Regions from separate parts of the Homo sapiens genome. Here regions 1, 3 and 4 are each reported to be linked to region 2. Evidence: microRNA targets listed by miRTarBase, many of them from high-throughput screens and not tested one by one. Region 2 holds a microRNA gene; each other region holds the end of a gene's coding sequence.

Region 1 (4,119 bases), not on the chromosome of region 2:
TTGTTTGTAACACAACAGATAAATGCTTGAGGTGATGGATACCCCATTTATGCTGATGTGATTATTATACATTTGCATGCCTGTATCAAAGTATTTCATGTACCCCATAAATATATATACCTACTATGTACCCACAAAAATTAAAAATAAAAAAATGAGCTCTGTTTCAGGATCTAGGAAAAAGATAAAAATTTTAAATTAAAAAAAAAGTTTGCTCTGACCACTCACTCACTCTCTGCCTTTTTAAAATATATATTTTAAAAAGAGTGTGTGTGTGTGTGTGTGTGTGTGTGTGTGAGAGAGAGAGAGAGGGGACAGAGTTTTACTCTTGTCGCCCAGGCTGGAGTGCAACGGCGCGATCTCGGCCCACCGAAACCTCCGCCTCCCAGGTCAAGCAATTCTCCTGCCTCAGTCTCCCGAGTAGCTGGGATTACAGGTGCCCACCACCACGCCCAGCTAATTTTTGTATTTTTAGTAAAGACAGGGTTTTGCCATGTTGGCTAGGCTGTTCTCGAACTCCTGAGGTGATCCACCCACCTTGGCCTCCCAAAGTGCTGGGATTACAGGCATGAGCCACCACGCCCAGTCTGAAAAGAATTTTTGAGACAGGGTCTGGCTCTGCCACCCAGGCTGGAATGCAGCGGTACAATCTCAGCTCACTTCAACCTCCACCTCTTGGGTTCAAGCCATCCTCCCACCTCAGCCTCCCCAGTAGCTAGGACTATAGGCACATGCCACCATGCCCAGCTAATTTTTGTATATTTTTGTAGAGACAGGGTTTCACCATATTGCCCAGGCTGGTCTTGAATTCCTGGGCTCAAGCGATCCGCCCATCTCGGCCTCCCAAAGTACTTGGATTATAGACATGAGCCACCGCGCCCAGCCTCCCCCTGCCCTTTTAACAGCTGCTTATCCACTTATTTGAAAGCTCTTCCCCTGGGGAGGGTGGGGGTTTGGGGAGAAACTGGTGTGTGGCTTGGAGGTGTGGGGAGCACTTTCAGGAACCAGCCCTCTGCTGCCCCGTCTCACATGGCCACCAGCGACCCAGCCCCTGGATCCTGCCCCACTAACCATCGCTATCTTCTTTTCTTCCTCCTACTCCAGCATACTTCCACAGGCTGCACTCGAGGAGATCCACAAATTCTCAGGAACCTACACCTGCATGAACACTTTCAAAGGGCGGACATAGAGACAGGATGAAGACATGCTTGAGGAGCCACGGAGTTTGGGGGCCACAGCACCTGGGCACACACCCGAGCACCTGTCCATTGGCATGCTTCTGCTGGGTGAGCAGGACAGCTCCTGTCCCCAGCGAAGAATCCGGCTGCCCCTGGGCCAGTCCCAGGACCTTTGCACAGGACTGATGGGTATAACTGACCCCCACAGGGAGGCAGGAAAACAGCCAGAAGCCACCTTGACACTTTTGAACATTTCCAGTTCTGTAGAGTTTATTGTCAATTGCTTCTCAAGTCTAACCAGCCTCAGCAGTGTGCATAGACCATTTCCAGGAGGGTCTGTCCCCAGATGCTCTGCCTCCCGTTCCAAAACCCACTCATCCTCAGCTTGCACAAACTGGTTGAACGGCAGGAATGAAAAATAAAGAGAGATGGCTTTTGTGATTTCCTTTGTTCAAATCTTCCGTGGGCAGTTGGGAGGGAGCCAGTCCCAACCATAAAACTCCATCCTTTGAGAGAGAACTGGTCAGTTCAAGGTCCCCAACTGCCAAGGGTGGAGAGAAGGGGGCCGAAATCAGGAGAGAAAGTGGAGCCCAGGCCTAGGGGCAGAGAGGGGTGCTGGGTTCCTCGCCAGCTCCACCAGGCCCCTCCCAGCAGCCATGGGTTGAAGCCGCTTTGTCTCCTTGGTGTGACCTTTATGAAACAGTCTGCAAACAGCTGGCCACAGCTAGAGATGCCCTCTGTCCTGCCATGGCACCACCAGCCTCCAGGCCACCAACTCAGGAGAGCAAAACCAGTGTTTATGGAGCACCCACTGTCTACCTAGGGTGTGTGTGGTGCAGAGAGGGGAACGTTGCTGAGAAGAACCACTAGTACAAGAAGCCAATAATCTGGGTAGGAAAGGATCACAAGTCACCGGAAACACAGTGACAACTCCTCACCATAAGGCCAGTGCCGAGGGGTGCTACAGACCGAGTCCCATTTGATCACAGGGGCAGGGGGAGGTCTGGAGTGGCAGAAGAGATCGGCCCTGGTTCCATCAATGGGGCAAAGTCACGGCCAAAATGACCTAGTAGAGATGCCCCCTGCTTCCTCCAGGGTGCACGCTCCCTGCTGCCACAAGCTTAATAAACCTCACCTTGGGCAGTGGGGAAGAAAGTGGGCCATGTCATTTCATAGCAAGTAAACTCCATTCCACACAGCTCTTGCAGATGAGTGCCAGGGTGGCAGGAGGGGAGCAGGCAAGGTCCCCGGGAGGTGAAGGAGGTCACAGCCCTCTGACCCAACCCAGAAGCTTCCCCAAGAGTTACATAAAGTCTTAACCTACATGCAAACCTCAGGCTGAAACCTCCCAGCTTAGAGAATATTAGACATAGCTCAGGTGATCATCAGTCTGGTCTATGTGCAGAAATGCCAAGTCACGATTATAGCCATGCTTTTTTTCTTCTTCTCTTTTTTTTTTTTTTAAACATGGGAACTTGCTCTGTCACCCAGGCTGGAGTGTGGAGTGGAATGGCACAATCACGGCTCACTGCAGCCTCAACCTCCTGGGCTCAAACAATCCTCCACCTCAGCCTCCGGAGTTGCTGGGACTACAGGTGCATGCCACCACGCCCAACTGTTTTCTTTTTATTTTTCGTAAAGACAGAGGTCTTGCTATGTTGTCCAGGCTGGTCTTGAACCCCTAGGCTCAAGCAATCCTCCTCCCTCAGCCTCCCAAAGTGCTGGGATTACTGGAATGAGCTACCACGCCCGGCCTGTAGCCACTCTTGAATGAGTACCTAGAATGGAGGTCAGTCCCCAGGCATAACATTTTAACTCTTCATTATCCATGCCACTTGGCAGCAGCTGAAGACCAAAAAAACACAACTCCGAGACCGCTCTGGAGACTTCCAACAGCCTTGATGTGGCGCAGCCAGAATGTGACGCCCAAATCTCAGTGGCTTCCAACAATGAAGGTTTCTGCCTTATTACTGCTACTAGTCCTTCAAGAATGGCTACAGGTGTGCTCCGTGTCATCTTCGCTCTGAAACTCAGGCTGACCAGGGGGCCTCAGGGAGGATGTCTTATGGCACAGGGTAGACATACCTGGTGAACTGTGCACTGGCTCTTGAAGTTTCCACCTGGAAACAACACTGTCACTTCTGCTCACATTTCATTAGCTGGAACAGGGCACGTGGTGGAGCCGCTATTAACATAGCAGGAAATACAATCCCGCGTGGAGGAGTAGTCGTTAGTTCTGAACCAGGCTCTGCCATGCCAGGGAAGAAGACATCATGAGCAAAAATTAAAATATAGGTTGAGGACAGAGGGAAGCAGCTGTATGGCTTCCAACTGCAAGCCCAAGGACACAGTGACTTTTGGGAGGGCACAGGAGGTGCTAAGCAGAGCCCTAAAGAGGCAACTGTCAGTGTTCATCTCACGCTAAACTTATTTAGGTCCTCACTCTGTTGCCCAGGCTGGAGTGCAGTGGCCCGATCATGGCCACTGCAGCCTCCACCTCCCAGGCTCAAGCAATCCTCCCACCTCAGCCTCTCGAGTAGCTGAGATTACAGGCATGTGCCACCACGCCTGGCTCACTTCATCATTTTTTTGTAAAGATAGGGTCTCGCTATGTTGCCCAGGCTAGTCTGGAATTCCTGGCTTAAGCAACCCTTCTGCCTTGACTTCCCAAAGGAGTGCAACAAGGATCCCTAAAGTCTGATTGGACTCTGGGAGTTGCAAGCCCCGCCAGCCCTCCCCAGTTGCATTGAGAACCAATCGCTGTGTTAGCAGAGTGGGACCCTGGCGTCCCAGAGCCCCAGGGGCTCAGAAGGGCAGGGCCTGGTCCCACCCCACCCCCTCCCTCTCAGCCAGGAGCTTTCAGTCTTTTTCTGGATCTTTTCCCAGAGGAACCAAAAGAAAAAGCACTGGGCAGAATCCCAGGAGGCCCCATTCTGGTCCC
Region 2 (4,119 bases):
CCCCCATTCCCTGCCTTTTGGGACTGTCTTTTCTCGTTTTTATGTTGGTATACTTGCTTCATATTGGGAAGCTTTACTGCCATCCTAACCCTTGCTTTCAGGTTTCTGGAAGGGGAGGATGGGGAAGACACAGCAAAGATATGCCAGGCTGACATTGTGGAGGCTGTGGACATTGCAAGTGCAGCCAAGGTGAGCCTGAGGAGGTAAAGGAGCCAAGGGATTGATTGGTGGTGCAGGACAATAGAGGAATGGGGGCTAGAAGAAGGCGTTACTGCAGGGCACTCTTTTTTTTCACTCTTCTCTTTCCCAGCACTTTGACTTGAATCTGCGGCAGTTTGGACCCTACAGACTAAACTACTCTCGAACTGGAAGGTAAGGTTGAATTCTAGTGACTCTTGAACTAAGATGTGTTTCCTTAACCACTTCAGCCATTCCCAGTGTATGTTTGGGTTGCTGATGAGGGGAGGGTCCTTCGATTTGCTTGGGTGTGAGGGTAAGCACCTACAGCAACATGTGTCTGCCCGCCTGGAGAGATGGGGCTGGCGTGGGGCAGACCTCAAGTTGTCTGAGTCGGTGGTCCCCTGCCTTAACACCCTGCCTGCCCCTCACCTCCAACAGACACCTGGCTTTTGGAGGGCGCCGAGGTCATGTGGCTGCCCTTGATTGGGTAACAAAGAAGCTTATGTGCGAGATCAACGTCATGGAGGCGGTGCGGGACATCCGGTCAGTGGCCTCACTGTCAGCGGTCAGTTGGGGTGAGATAGTCCATTCCTGATTGAATGATAGCCTGTGACCTCATTTCCCAATTGAACCACTCTTCCTCTCCCCCAGGTTTCTCCATTCTGAGGCACTGCTTGCTGTTGCTCAGAACCGCTGGCTCCACATCTATGACAATCAGGGCATTGAGCTCCACTGTATCCGCCGCTGTGACCGAGTAACACGGCTTGAGTTCCTGCCCTTCCACTTCCTCCTGGCTACAGCTGTGAGTGGCCATGGAGCTCAGGAACTGGTTGGAAGCCCTTGGGATGACCACCTCTCCTTTAGGACCCCAGCAGAGGGAATACAGAGGGCAATCAGGACTGGGTCATTCTCTCTGTCTTTCTCTCTCAGTCAGAAACAGGGTTTCTAACCTACCTGGATGTGTCAGTGGGGAAGATTGTGGCAGCTCTGAATGCTCGAGCTGGGCGGCTCGATGTTATGAGTCAGAACCCTTACAATGCCGTCATCCATCTCGGACACAGCAATGGTCAGTACCTGGCTTAGTTTTGACTCTGACCATCCTGACTTGCTTTTCTTCTATATTTGTACTTCATGAGTCCCTTAAAGTTACCCTTTTATTTCCCTTTTTTGTTATCTCTTGGTCTTGAGTTCCCATCTTTCCCATGTTTAGTAACCTCAGGCTTAGGTGTGTATTAGCAACTTTGGTTCTTCTTCTCTTCCAGGTACTGTGTCTTTATGGAGTCCAGCTATGAAGGAGCCACTGGCAAAGATTCTCTGTCATCGTGGTGGGGTCCGGGCTGTGGCAGTAGATTCTACAGGCACGTAAGTCACTGGTGGGGTGAGGTGTTAGGAGTCATAGGTGGGCAGAAAGGTGTGGAAGGCAGTGTGCTTTAGGAGCACAGAGTCTAAAGCCAGGATGCCCAGGTTTAAATCGCAGTGTTACCACGGATGGGCCTTGCAAGTATAGGCATATTTCATAACCTCTGTGTGCCACAGTTTCCTGACCCCGAAAATGGAAATATGAGTGTCCATTTCAAGGGTCCACAAACTTTTTCTGTAAAGAGTCAGATAGTAAATATTTTATGATTTGCTGATAAGAGGTAAAATCAAAGGGTACCATGTAGGCATTTAAATACCAAGAGAAAACAAATTATCACAACTTTTTTTTTTGAGATGGAGTCTCGCTCTGACACCCAGGCTGGAGTGCAATGGCGCAATCTCAGCTCACTGCAACCTCCACCTCTCAGGTTCAAGTGATTCTCCTGCCTTGGCCTCTCGAGTATCTGGGACTACAGGCGCCTGCTACAACACCTGGCTAATTTTTGTATTTTTAGTAGAGACAGGGTTTCAGCATGTTGTTCAGGCTGGTCTCGAATTCCTGACCTCAAGTGATCTGCCCGCCTCAGCCTCCCAAAGTGCTGGGATTATAGGCGTGAGCCACTGCGCCTGACCTTTTTTTTTTTAAATCTTTTGAGAGAGACGTAGTCTTGCTCTGTCTCCCAGGTTGGAGTGCAGTGGCGTGATCTCGGCTCACTGCAACCTCCGCCTCCCAGATTCAAGCGATTCTCCTGCCTCAGTCTCCCAAGTAGCTGGGATTACAGGCACCTGCCATCATGCCCAGCTAATTTTGTATTTTTTTGTAGAGACGGGGTTTTACTGTGTTGGCCAGGCTGGTCTTGAACTCCTGACCTCAGATGATCTGCCCGCCTCGGCCTCCCAAAGTGTTGGGATTACAGGCGTGAGCCACTGCGCCTGGCCCACACATTTTTAGGTTATAAAATTAAACGTAATATGGCCAGGTGCGGTGGCTCACGCCTGTAATCCCAGCACTTTGGAGGCCAAGGCGGGTGGATCGCCTGAGGTCAGGAGTTTGAGACCAGCCTGGCCAACATGGCGAAACTCTGTCTCTACTAAAAATTCACAAAATTAGCCGGGTGTCGTGGCGGGGGCCTGTAATTCCGGCAACTTGGGAGGCTGAGGCAGGAGAATTGCTTGAACCTGGGAGGCAGGGGTTGCAGTGAGCCAAGACTGTGCCATTGCACTCCAACCTGGGCAACAAGAGCAAAACTCCGTCTCAAAAACAAACAAACAAACAAAACATAATATGAGACTGGACACAGTGGCTCATGCCTGTAATCTTAACAGTTTGGTAGGCTGAGGTGGGCAGATCACTTGAGCCCAGAAGTTCGAAACAAGCCATGTCACCCATGACATGGCAAAACTCTGTCTCTACAGAAGATAGAAAAATTAGCCGGGTGTGGTGGTGCATGCCTGTAGTCCCAGCTACTCAGGAGGCTGAGGTGATCCTCCCACCTCAGCCCAGGAGGTTAAGGCTGCAGTGAGCTGTGATCATGCCACTGCACTCTAGCATGGGCAACAGAGTGAGACCCGGTCTCAGAAAAAAAAAATAATAATAATCAAATATATTTGTGTAATACAGATCTACTAATGGGAAGAACTGAATTTCTCTTTTTGAGGTTAACATTTTGCCTAATTGATGTACAAAGTTAGTGTTCCAGATGGTCAAATTTGACTGTAGATATTCATGTTCATGCTGATCTGTAGAGATTGCAAGTATTTCATCTTTGAAAACATCTTTTCACACAGGTAATGATAGGTGATATGTGAGGTGCTTGAAATGCTGTGAAGCACTTACGACTGTGTCACTGTGACTTGTAGTGTACAAAGCAGCAGTGCAAATCAGGATGCTGTAGTCGCTGTCGTGACCACTCGGCTGTGTGTTGTAGAGCAAAAGCAGCCACAGTATTAAGTAAATAGTGTGGCCCCGTTCCAATAAAACTTTATTTGTTGGATATTGGAATTTGAATTTCATACGGTTTTCACAGTCTCAAAATATTCTTTTGATTTTTTTTCAACCACTTAAAAATGTAAAAACCATTCTTGGCTTGTGGGCTATACAGAACTAGATGATGGGCCAGGTTTGGCCCATGGGCAGTAGTTTACCAAGCCTTGGTTTAAAGCCCTCATATAAGCTGTTGTAGACATTAAGATGAGTTAAGGCATATAGTTTAGCACAGCGCTTAGCAAAATAGGGAGCGCTGTGTTCATCATTGTCATTCAAGATGATCGTTCTCTCCAGGTCTGGCTGATGTGAGGGGTGGAGGTGGTGTCTGCTTTGGATTTCTGCTGTTCCTGAGGGAGTATCTGCATTTTCCACAGCTTTTCTGTCTGATTTGTATTTTCCTCTGATTCCTTTTGTCATCAGGTATTCACTGGGCACCTGCTGTGGGCAGGGCTCTGCGCTGAGGTTCTGGAGACAAAAGGATGAATCGTTGAGCCTGCCCTGGTGTGGTGCTCCCGTTATCCTTTAGGTATAAAAACTTGTGGCTATTTTTTTTTTTTTTTTGAGACAGAGTCTTGATCTGTCACCCAGGCTGG
Region 3 (4,119 bases), not on the chromosome of region 2:
TCCCCGCCCGGCGGTGGAGCGGCATCCCGGTGTCCTGACTTGGGCCAGTGGCGAGTGGGCAGTAGCAGGCGTTGGTAAAGCCAGTCTGCCCTCTGCTGAAGTGTTACTGCTGAGTCATTCAGTTCTTTCAGCTGATACCTGTTCAACACCTCCTGCGTGCCAGGCCCTGCCAGCCGTCGGGGTGGGAAGAGGCATCAGACGCAGCTGCCCCCTGCTGTAGGGCACTGGGTTTCCATGCGGAGCCCCTGAGAAAATACAGTACTCAGCAGCTGGGTGCAGTGGCTCAGAAGAAGGAGTTCTGGTGTAAAAAAAACAAAAAAAAACAGGCTGGGCACAGTGGCTCACGCCTATAATCCCAGCACTTTGGGAGGCCAAGGCAGGTGGATCACCTGAGGTCAGGAGTTCGAGACCAGCCTGGCCAACATGGCGAAACCCCGTCTCTACTAAAAATACAAACTTAGCTGGGCGTGGTGGCAGGTGCCTGTAATTCCAGCTACTCGGGAGGCTGAGGCAGGACACTTGAATCCGGGCTGTGAAGGTTGCAGTGAGCCAAGATTGCACCATTGCACTCGAGCCTGGGTGACAAGAGTGAAACTCTGTCTCAAAAAGAAAAAATAAAAATAAAAAAAACAGAAAATGAAAACCACTGGTCTAAGAGAATCTGCTAGAGTCTTGAGAGGAAGACTTCCTTCTTCCTGGCAAGCCCCAGTTTCCTTTTTCAGAACTAAACTCATGCTGCCTCTTGTTTTGCCCGTCCCTGCCCATTTCCAGAGTTCGGCGTGTACTGCAGCCACTGCCGGAGTGAGGTCCGTGGCACGCAGTGTGCCATCTGCAAAGGCTTCACGTTCCAGTGTGCCATCTGTCACGTGGCTGTGCGGGGATCGTCCAATTTCTGCCTGACCTGTGGGCACGGTGGCCACACCAGCCACATGATGGAGTGGTTTCGGACCCAGGAGGTGTGTCCCACCGGGTGTGGGTGCCACTGCCTGCTTGAAAGCACTTTCTGAACCTACAGAAGTTGGGTATTGTCTGAAATCCCAGAGGACCCATAAGTGCCGGTGACAAGCTGTCTGTCAGGGGAGAGGCTCCAGAACCTGGGTTCGTCCCCAGTGAGACCGGAGGATGATCCCCCAAGGACTGCGCAGCATCAGCTCTTGGTGGGCCTCTGCCTTCTCTTCTGTTTGGCCACCTGGTGTGGATGTCACTGTGTGAAGATAAGGACAGAAGTGCAGAGCTGCGCTTTGTGTGTTGTCTATGTCGGCTGAGCTACCAAGGTGGAAGTTTTCATGGAGAAAAGCACCTGGCTCCAGGGCCAGTGTTACAGTGTTACCCTGTAAGGTGTTAGCCTTAAACCACCGAGCAGCGTTCTCTTGATGCCAGTGCAGAGACCAGAGTCAGATGCCCGAGGACAGTGGGTAGGAATTTCATCAACAAATGGACCTATGGCATCATGGCTTTAGAAGCTGGTACATTTACTGAGCTGATGGACAGTGGCCTTCTAAAATATGACACTTAAATTGTAAATATGCACTGTACTTAAGGATTCTTAAGATGTATTTTTTTGTTATTTCTCCTCCAGCTGCTATCCCTTGGCTAATAAAATTCTAGTAATTTGAAAAAAAAAAAAAAGAGAGAAAGTTAAACAACATTATGGTGAATCATTTTTTACCCTAATTCTAATTGAAGGTAGCTATTTTGAATAGGACCAAAGTCAGTGCTCCGATTTTTAAAGGAAATGCTGATTTACTTTTGTCATCTGACAAGAGAAAATGGAATTTGACATTTAAGGTTCTTCCTAGCCCCAAGAGTCTTATTTCTTCTAGCAAAAGGAGGACAAGATTGCCGTGCAGCATGGATAGAAAAGTCTCCCTGGCCAGGCCCCATGGCTCATGCCTGTAATCCCACACTTTAGAAGGCAAAAGTGAGGGGATCACCTGAGCTCAGGAGTTCGAGACCAGCCTGGGCAACATAAGGAGATCCCATCTCTGCAAAAAATTTAAAAAATAGGCCGGGCACGGTGGCTCATGCCTGTAATCCCAGCACTTTGGGAGGCTGAGGTGGGAGGATTACCTGAGGTCAGGAGTTCGAGACTAGCCTGGCCAACATGGTGAAACCCCATCTCTACTAAAAATAGAAAAATTAGCCGGGCATGGTGGCGGGCGCCTGTAATCCCAGGTACTGGGGAGGCTGAGACAGGAGAATCGCTTGAACTTGGGAAGCAGAGGTTGCAGCGAGCTGAGATTATGCCATTGCACTCCAGCCTGGGTGACAAGAGTGAGACTCTGTCTCAAAAAAAGAAAAAAAAAATTAAAAAAATAGCCGGGTGTGGTGGCACATGCCTGTGGTCCCAGCTACTTGAGGGGCCGAGGTGGGAGGATCACTTGAGTCCAGGAGGTTGAGGCTGCAGTGAGCCTTGATTGCACCGCTGCACTCCAGCCTGGGCAACAGAGTGAGACCCTGTCAATAAACCAAAGTCTTCCTTGCCTCTGTTCAGATGGGCTGGGTTCCAGTGAGTGCCCTCACTCTTCCTTTAGGCTCCCTCGCAAACTGCCTGTGTTTGCCTGTGTTCTGAGTAGTTATAACATCTGTGTCCACCAATTCTTCAGAATGATTTTCTTTTTTAAAGTTAAATTTTTTTTTTTTTTTTTTAGAGAGAGAGACAGGGTCTCACTCTGTCACCCAGACTGGAGAGTGGTGATGCAATCATAGCTCACTGTAGCCTCTATCACCTGAGCTCAAGTGATCCTCCCACCTCAGCCTCCCGAGTAGCTGGGACTACAGGTGTGCACCACCATGCCTGGCTAATTTCAGAATGATTTTCAACTTCACATTTTGTATGTGCCAGTGAAAAGAAATCTTTTTTATTATTTCTACTGAAATATCTATTTCTGTTTCTTAGAATTTTACAGTTCCAAGTAGATTAGCTTAGGGACTAGGACATGTCTCATAATGGGAGAGCATTGCATATTCATGTGTTTCAAACTCCAGGTCAGGACCCATTAGTGGATTGTGACATTGATCTAGTGCGGAAAACCAGCATTTAAAAAAATGAAATGGTGTAAGAGAAAAATGATCACAATGTACCATACATAGCTAAGGAAAATGTTTTGTGTAACTTGTTTACGTGTGTGCAGCACATGTGTGCACAGGTGTATACCGGATCATAGCGTAAATTCATTTCTTACTGAAAGTTGTAGTCAAAACATTTTCACAACACTGTTTTGGATGAAGCTTATACCTCGTCCCCTGTGTTACTGGGCACAAAACTTCAGGATGTAAGAAAGAACTGAGATCCTGTGCAGTGGAACCAGAGGTTTAGTGCTGGGCTCTGGTCTGAGGTAAGGTGCCAGTGTCTCAGTAGCGTGAGCAGGGCGGGGGAGCCGCTGGGAGGATGACAGGAGAAGGCCCAGCCGGGAATTTGCATACACAAATTCTGTTGTAATGGTGATCACAGAATAGGTTGGCTGATTTACACAGAGAGAAAGGATCTGTTGTGTTCCTCAGTGAAATCACACCATTTGCAGAGAGCAATCTTTTCCTGTTCCCCACTGCTCAAGTTAGTGTAAAAACCTGTCCCTATCTGTCCCCATCAAGAATGAGATGTTTTTCTTGTTTTATTGTTGGAGGAACATTGACTTTCAAAATTGAAAAACCTTAATGGTGTGAAGAAATTTCGAGTTTAAAATATTACATAATGTCATCCTTCAATACGGAAATTCCTTTTGAATTTCCAAGTTACCAGAACAAAAGTCTAATATTTTAAAATATTCATGTTTGGAAACAGGTTGGTTGTCTGGTTGCGGGCCATGGCCGATATTCTCTCAGCCGCAGAATAGATGATTACAAGCACCTGAGTCTTTTGTTTGTTTATTTGTTTTTAAGAGCAATACAAGGCCAAGTGGGGTGGCTCACGCCTGTAATGCCAGCACTTTGGGAGGCCGAGGTGGGTGGATCACCTGAGGTCAGGAGTTCAAGACCAGCCTGGCCAACATGGCGAAACCCTGTCTTTACGAAAAATGCAAAAATTTTCCGGGTGTGGTGGCGGTTGCCTGTAATCCCAGCTACTCAGGAGGCTGAGGCAGGAGAATCGCTTGAACCCGGGAGGCGGAGGTTGCAGTG
Region 4 (4,119 bases), not on the chromosome of region 2:
TCACGCCTGTAATCCCAGCACCTTGGGAGGCCGAAGAGGGAGGATCACTTGAGGTCAGAGGTTCAAGACCAGTGTGGCCAACATGGTGAAACCCTGTCTATACTGAAAATAAAAAAATTAGCTGAGTGTGGTGGTGCACGCCTGTAGTCCCAGCGACTTGGGAGGCTGCAGCAAGATAATCGCTTGAACGTGGGAAGCTGAGGTTGCAGTGAGCTGAGATTGCACCACTGCACTCCAGCCTGGGCGATAGAGTGTGACTCTGTCTCAAAACAAACAAACAAAAAACCCGGAGATTAGACTGGGTAATTTTGAAAGACCATCTCAGCCCTGACCCTCTGGGGGAATAACATCAATGGGTCAATTTGTGCAAAACCTTTTACTTTTTAAAGCACAAAAATTTGCTGGGCATGGTGGTGCATGCCTGTAATCCCAGCTACTCAGGAGGCTGAGGCAGGAGAATCACTTGAACCCAGGAGGCGGAGCTTGCAGTGAGCTGAGATCGCACCATTGCACGCCAGCTTGGGCAACAAGAGTGAAACTACACCTTAAAAAAAGCACTTTCACCATCCTGGCTAACACGGTGAAACCCCGTCTCTACTAAAAATACAAAAAATTAGCCGGGCGTGGTGACGGGCACCTGTAGTCCCAGCTACTGGGGAGGTTGAGGCAGGAGAATGGCCTGAACCCGGGAGGCGGAGCTTGCAGTGAGCCGAGATAACGCCACTGCACTCCAGCCTGGGCGACGGAGTGAGACTCTGCCTCAAAAAAAAAAGCACTTCCACATCAATGACTTCCTGCTGTTCTTAGGATGTTCCTGTAGATTATTAGATTAAATCTCATGGATAGGAATACGAGGCCCAGAGAAGTGAAACAATTAGTGGCAGGGCTGAGAGTAGATTCCAGGTCTCCTGGCTCTTATCAAGGTTGCTGTGCCCAGGGTGTACCCACACAAAGGCACAGATTGGGGCTGAGGGAAAAAGGGAGGCTGACAGGTGCTCAGTAGTGTGACCCAATCAGCCTTAAGGAAGGGACATCTTTCTCTAATTGGTCTGCCCAGAAGAGGCACCTTGTTCTCATAGCGCTTCCACAGGGAGATGGAACAGCTTTTCTCAATTAATCAGCCCTGAACACTCCTTTCTGCAATGTGTCCATCTGCAGGAGCACCTCTTCCTAATTTGCACAAAGGCACCTTATGTACGAGGAATACCCTTGATCCCTGGGCTGCTCCTCTTCTCACTTGGTGTCAGGTCCTGGGGTCCAGGTCCAGCCCGTGCTAAAGTCTGAGGGGAGTGGGTAGATGGACAGAAAGAACACTCAGGGCCCATAGGCAGGTGAATATGGTTTTATTCAGCAACAGCTCTCATCAACAGCTTACACTAGCTCTCTCACACTGTCCGCCCTGCCTTGGCTGCTTGAGCCCGTGGCTTCCACACACAGCTGTGCAGCCTGCTCTCCCTTGCCTTCAGGGTCAGCAGCTTAACTTTTTCTCTCTCTGGGCGTGAGCAAGCTGAGCTGTGTCCTGGCTCCTTCCTGTCCATCTGCAAAACGGACAGCTTTGGCTCTCTCTCTCTCTTACTGGGCGCCAGTGTGCCCACCATGTCAAGCCATGTTGAGCTGAGCCGAACCCCAAGAGCCCCTGTACAGCATTAGCAGGACAATTACCTTTTACAGACAACAGTGGCTCAGACCAAGTATGAACTTACACAAACAGGTTATATAACAAGTGGAGGTGTGTGCCTGTGCACCAAACCCACTGAGTCATGCAGGCATGGATCTCTGCCTTGGCCTATTCCTTGACCAAAGCACATCCATGTACCTTACACCTGGGTCTGAAGTAGGGTTGCCAGATGAAATACAGGACACCCAGCTAAATTTGAATTTCAGGTGAACAACAAATCATTGTTTAGATTAAGCATGTTCCATGCAGTTCTGGGGACATACTTAACCTTATAGATTTATTTCATTTATCTAAAATTCAATGAACTGGGGCAGTCTGTATTTGCTAAATCTGCTGACCTTAGTCTAGAGGCAGTGGTATGTTCCAGCTGACTCCAATCAGCTCATGAGAGTCAACTGTAAAATATTTAGGAGATTTATGAGCTGGTTATTAAACCACTGGTGGCTTGAAATCAACCATGGTGGGAGTATTTACACCACAGAAATTGGTGACTACCACACATCAGTGCTTTTCCTTTACAGAGCTGGTTATAGAACATTCCCCCTGGCTGGGTGCGGTGGCTCACGCCTGTAATCCCAGCACTTTGGGAGGCCAAGGTGGGTGGATCACCAGGTCAGGAGATCGAGACCATCCTGGCTAACACGGTGAAACCCCATCTCTACTAAAAATACAAAAATTAGCCGGGCATGGTGGCGCGTGCCTGTAGTCCCAGCTACACGGGAGGCTGAGGCAGGAGAATGGCGTGAACCCGGGAGGCGGAGCTTGCAGTGAGTCGAGATCGCGCCACTGCACTCCAGCCTGGGCGACAGAGCGAAACTCCGTCTCAAATAAAAAAAAAAAAAAAAAAATTAGCTGGGTGTGGTGGCGAGCTCCTGTAGTCCCAGCTACTCGGGAGGCTGAGGCAGGAGAATGGCGTCAACCCAGGACGCAGAGCTTGCAGTGAGCCGAGATCGTGCCATTGCACTCTAGCCTGGGTGACAGAGCCAGACTCCGTCTCAAAAAAAAAAAAAAAATTCCCCAATATACCACTGTCCAGAGGTTTCCTTGTCCTTAACATATTAGGTAGACTCAGAGGTTTCCTTGTCCTTAACATATTAGGTAGACTCTAAAACCACGTCCCTGGGTGCTCCACAGTCACACAGGAGTCAGATCGCATCTAAGATAGCTGTAAGGCTTAGTATATTAGAAAATGGAAAATTCCACTCCTAGGATCCTAGAATGAGGAATGTTGGAAACTTAGAATTCTAAAACAAGGATGTTAGAATCTCAGAATTTCAGAAGATGGAATGTTAGTGTTGAAATCAGAGACTGTTAGACAGTATCCATTCCTCACCCCTCTCTAGCATACAGATGGCCAAGGCCTCACAGCCTGACCAGACCTCTGGCTGGCCCTCCTGGCTCAGGGCCCAGGCTTCTTGCGAGCCACAATGAAGCAGACCCCATTGTTGGCAGCATTGGTGACAGAGTAGCTCTGGGGACTGTGTAGGAGCTGTTCAATGTCAAAGCCAGCATCCAGGACAGCCTGCTCCACCTCCTCTTTCTCCAGGGCCACGCAGGAAAATTCACGCTTCCCCACCATGTAGGACGGGAGCCGAAGCGTGACAGTGGTCACCAGGTGGCCACCCGGCTTGAGCAGTGAGGCAAGGTTGCACAGGGCAGCGCGGTAGGCATCAAGGCTACAGCAGGCACACTCCATGGCCAGCAGGGTGAGCACACAGTCGGCGAGAGGCAACACAGCCGGGGCCAGCGGGTTGCCCAGGTGGACATCGCACTTGAGCACCCGCTTCACCGCTGCCCGCAGCTTCTCCTCCTTCTCCTCCCATCGGCCGCTGCAGAGAGAGAGAGGGAGTCGGGGAGGCCCTTTGAGGTTCTGAAGGGAACTCTCAGTCCACTGTGACCAGCAGATGGAGATGATCTCTGGATCCCCAAAGGATTGCTGTCCCTGAGTCCCTGTGTGACCTGACAGCAGGCTCTTCTTCAATCTGAGCCTCAGTTTCTCCCAAAGAAAAATGGTTAGGGAGAATGGCTAGAACAATTATAGGAAACTTTCTCTCTCTGATTCCATGTGAGCCCCCTTCCCTTAATCCCCAGGATGGACAAAGCCACCCCAAGCACAGAGAGGGCAGTTAACAAACATTATTGGATGGATGGATGAATGAATTAATGAATTTACTACAGATAATGTATGAATATAGCTATCTTAAAAATATAATTTTGAGTGATGAAAAGCAAATCGCAAATGACACAGAGCAAATTACTCTGCTATAAAGCTCAAAGGCGACTAAAACTAAATTATAGATTGTTTAGATATACATAAGTATGCAAGAAAAAAATTTTTTGAAAAAGGGAATGATAAGCATAAAATCCATATTAGTGATTACCCGAGGTTGGGAAAGGCAGAGGCAAGGAGTCACAGAGAAGCACAGGTAAGTCTTTATTAT

Evidence for each region. The annotated mature microRNA hsa-miR-6873-3p reads UUCUCUCUGUCUUUCUCUCUCAG and lies in region 2 at 1,088-1,110, shown strand. An mRNA with a match to its seed (bases 2 to 7 or 8) in the 3' UTR can be bound and repressed. Matches are read on the target gene's strand: a 7mer-m8 pairs with bases 2 to 8, a 7mer-A1 pairs with bases 2 to 7 and ends in A, and an 8mer does both.
Region 1: the mRNA of DHRS3 is a reported target of hsa-miR-6873-3p. Seed matches in the 3' UTR shown: 7mer-m8 at 1,601-1,607.
Region 3: miRTarBase lists WDR59 as a target of hsa-miR-6873-3p. Seed matches in the 3' UTR shown: 8mer at 1,629-1,636, 7mer-m8 at 2,650-2,656, 7mer-m8 at 2,652-2,658, 7mer-m8 at 2,654-2,660 and 8mer at 3,476-3,483.
Region 4: the mRNA of INMT is a reported target of hsa-miR-6873-3p. Seed matches in the 3' UTR shown: 7mer-m8 at 1,567-1,573, 7mer-m8 at 1,565-1,571, 7mer-m8 at 1,563-1,569, 7mer-m8 at 1,561-1,567, 7mer-m8 at 1,488-1,494 and 8mer at 1,485-1,492.

The regions. Positions count from the first base shown.
Region 1 is chr1:12,565,410-12,569,528 of GRCh38, reverse strand. DHRS3 (dehydrogenase/reductase 3) reads left to right here. Exons shown (of 6, transcript NM_004753.7): 6 at 1,105-1,619. The coding sequence ends at 1,189. Among named protein-coding and RNA genes, the nearest start is that of MIR6730, 12 kb to the left of the region's middle.
Region 2 is chr6:33,284,218-33,288,336 of GRCh38, reverse strand. MIR6873 (microRNA 6873) reads left to right here and starts at 1,048; the gene lies at 1,048-1,110. It overlaps WDR46 (WD repeat domain 46), which reads left to right. Exons shown (of 15, transcript NM_005452.6): 5 at 102-189; 6 at 311-372; 7 at 619-723; 8 at 832-982; 9 at 1,111-1,246; 10 at 1,443-1,542. RefSeq lists enhancers at 38-571, 572-1,105.
Region 3 is chr16:74,871,097-74,875,215 of GRCh38, reverse strand. WDR59 (WD repeat domain 59) reads left to right here. Exons shown (of 26, transcript NM_030581.4): 26 at 772-3,854. The coding sequence ends at 1,007. Among named protein-coding and RNA genes, the nearest start is that of FA2H, 98 kb to the right of the region's middle. RefSeq lists enhancers at 266-991, 3,197-3,745.
Region 4 is chr7:30,754,810-30,758,928 of GRCh38, reverse strand. INMT (indolethylamine N-methyltransferase) reads right to left here. Exons shown (of 3, transcript NM_006774.5): 3 at 1,327-3,507. The coding sequence ends at 3,078. The region is part of intron 2 of INMT-MINDY4 (INMT-MINDY4 readthrough (NMD candidate)); the gene reads right to left. Among named protein-coding and RNA genes, the nearest start is that of INMT-MINDY4, 4.7 kb to the right of the region's middle.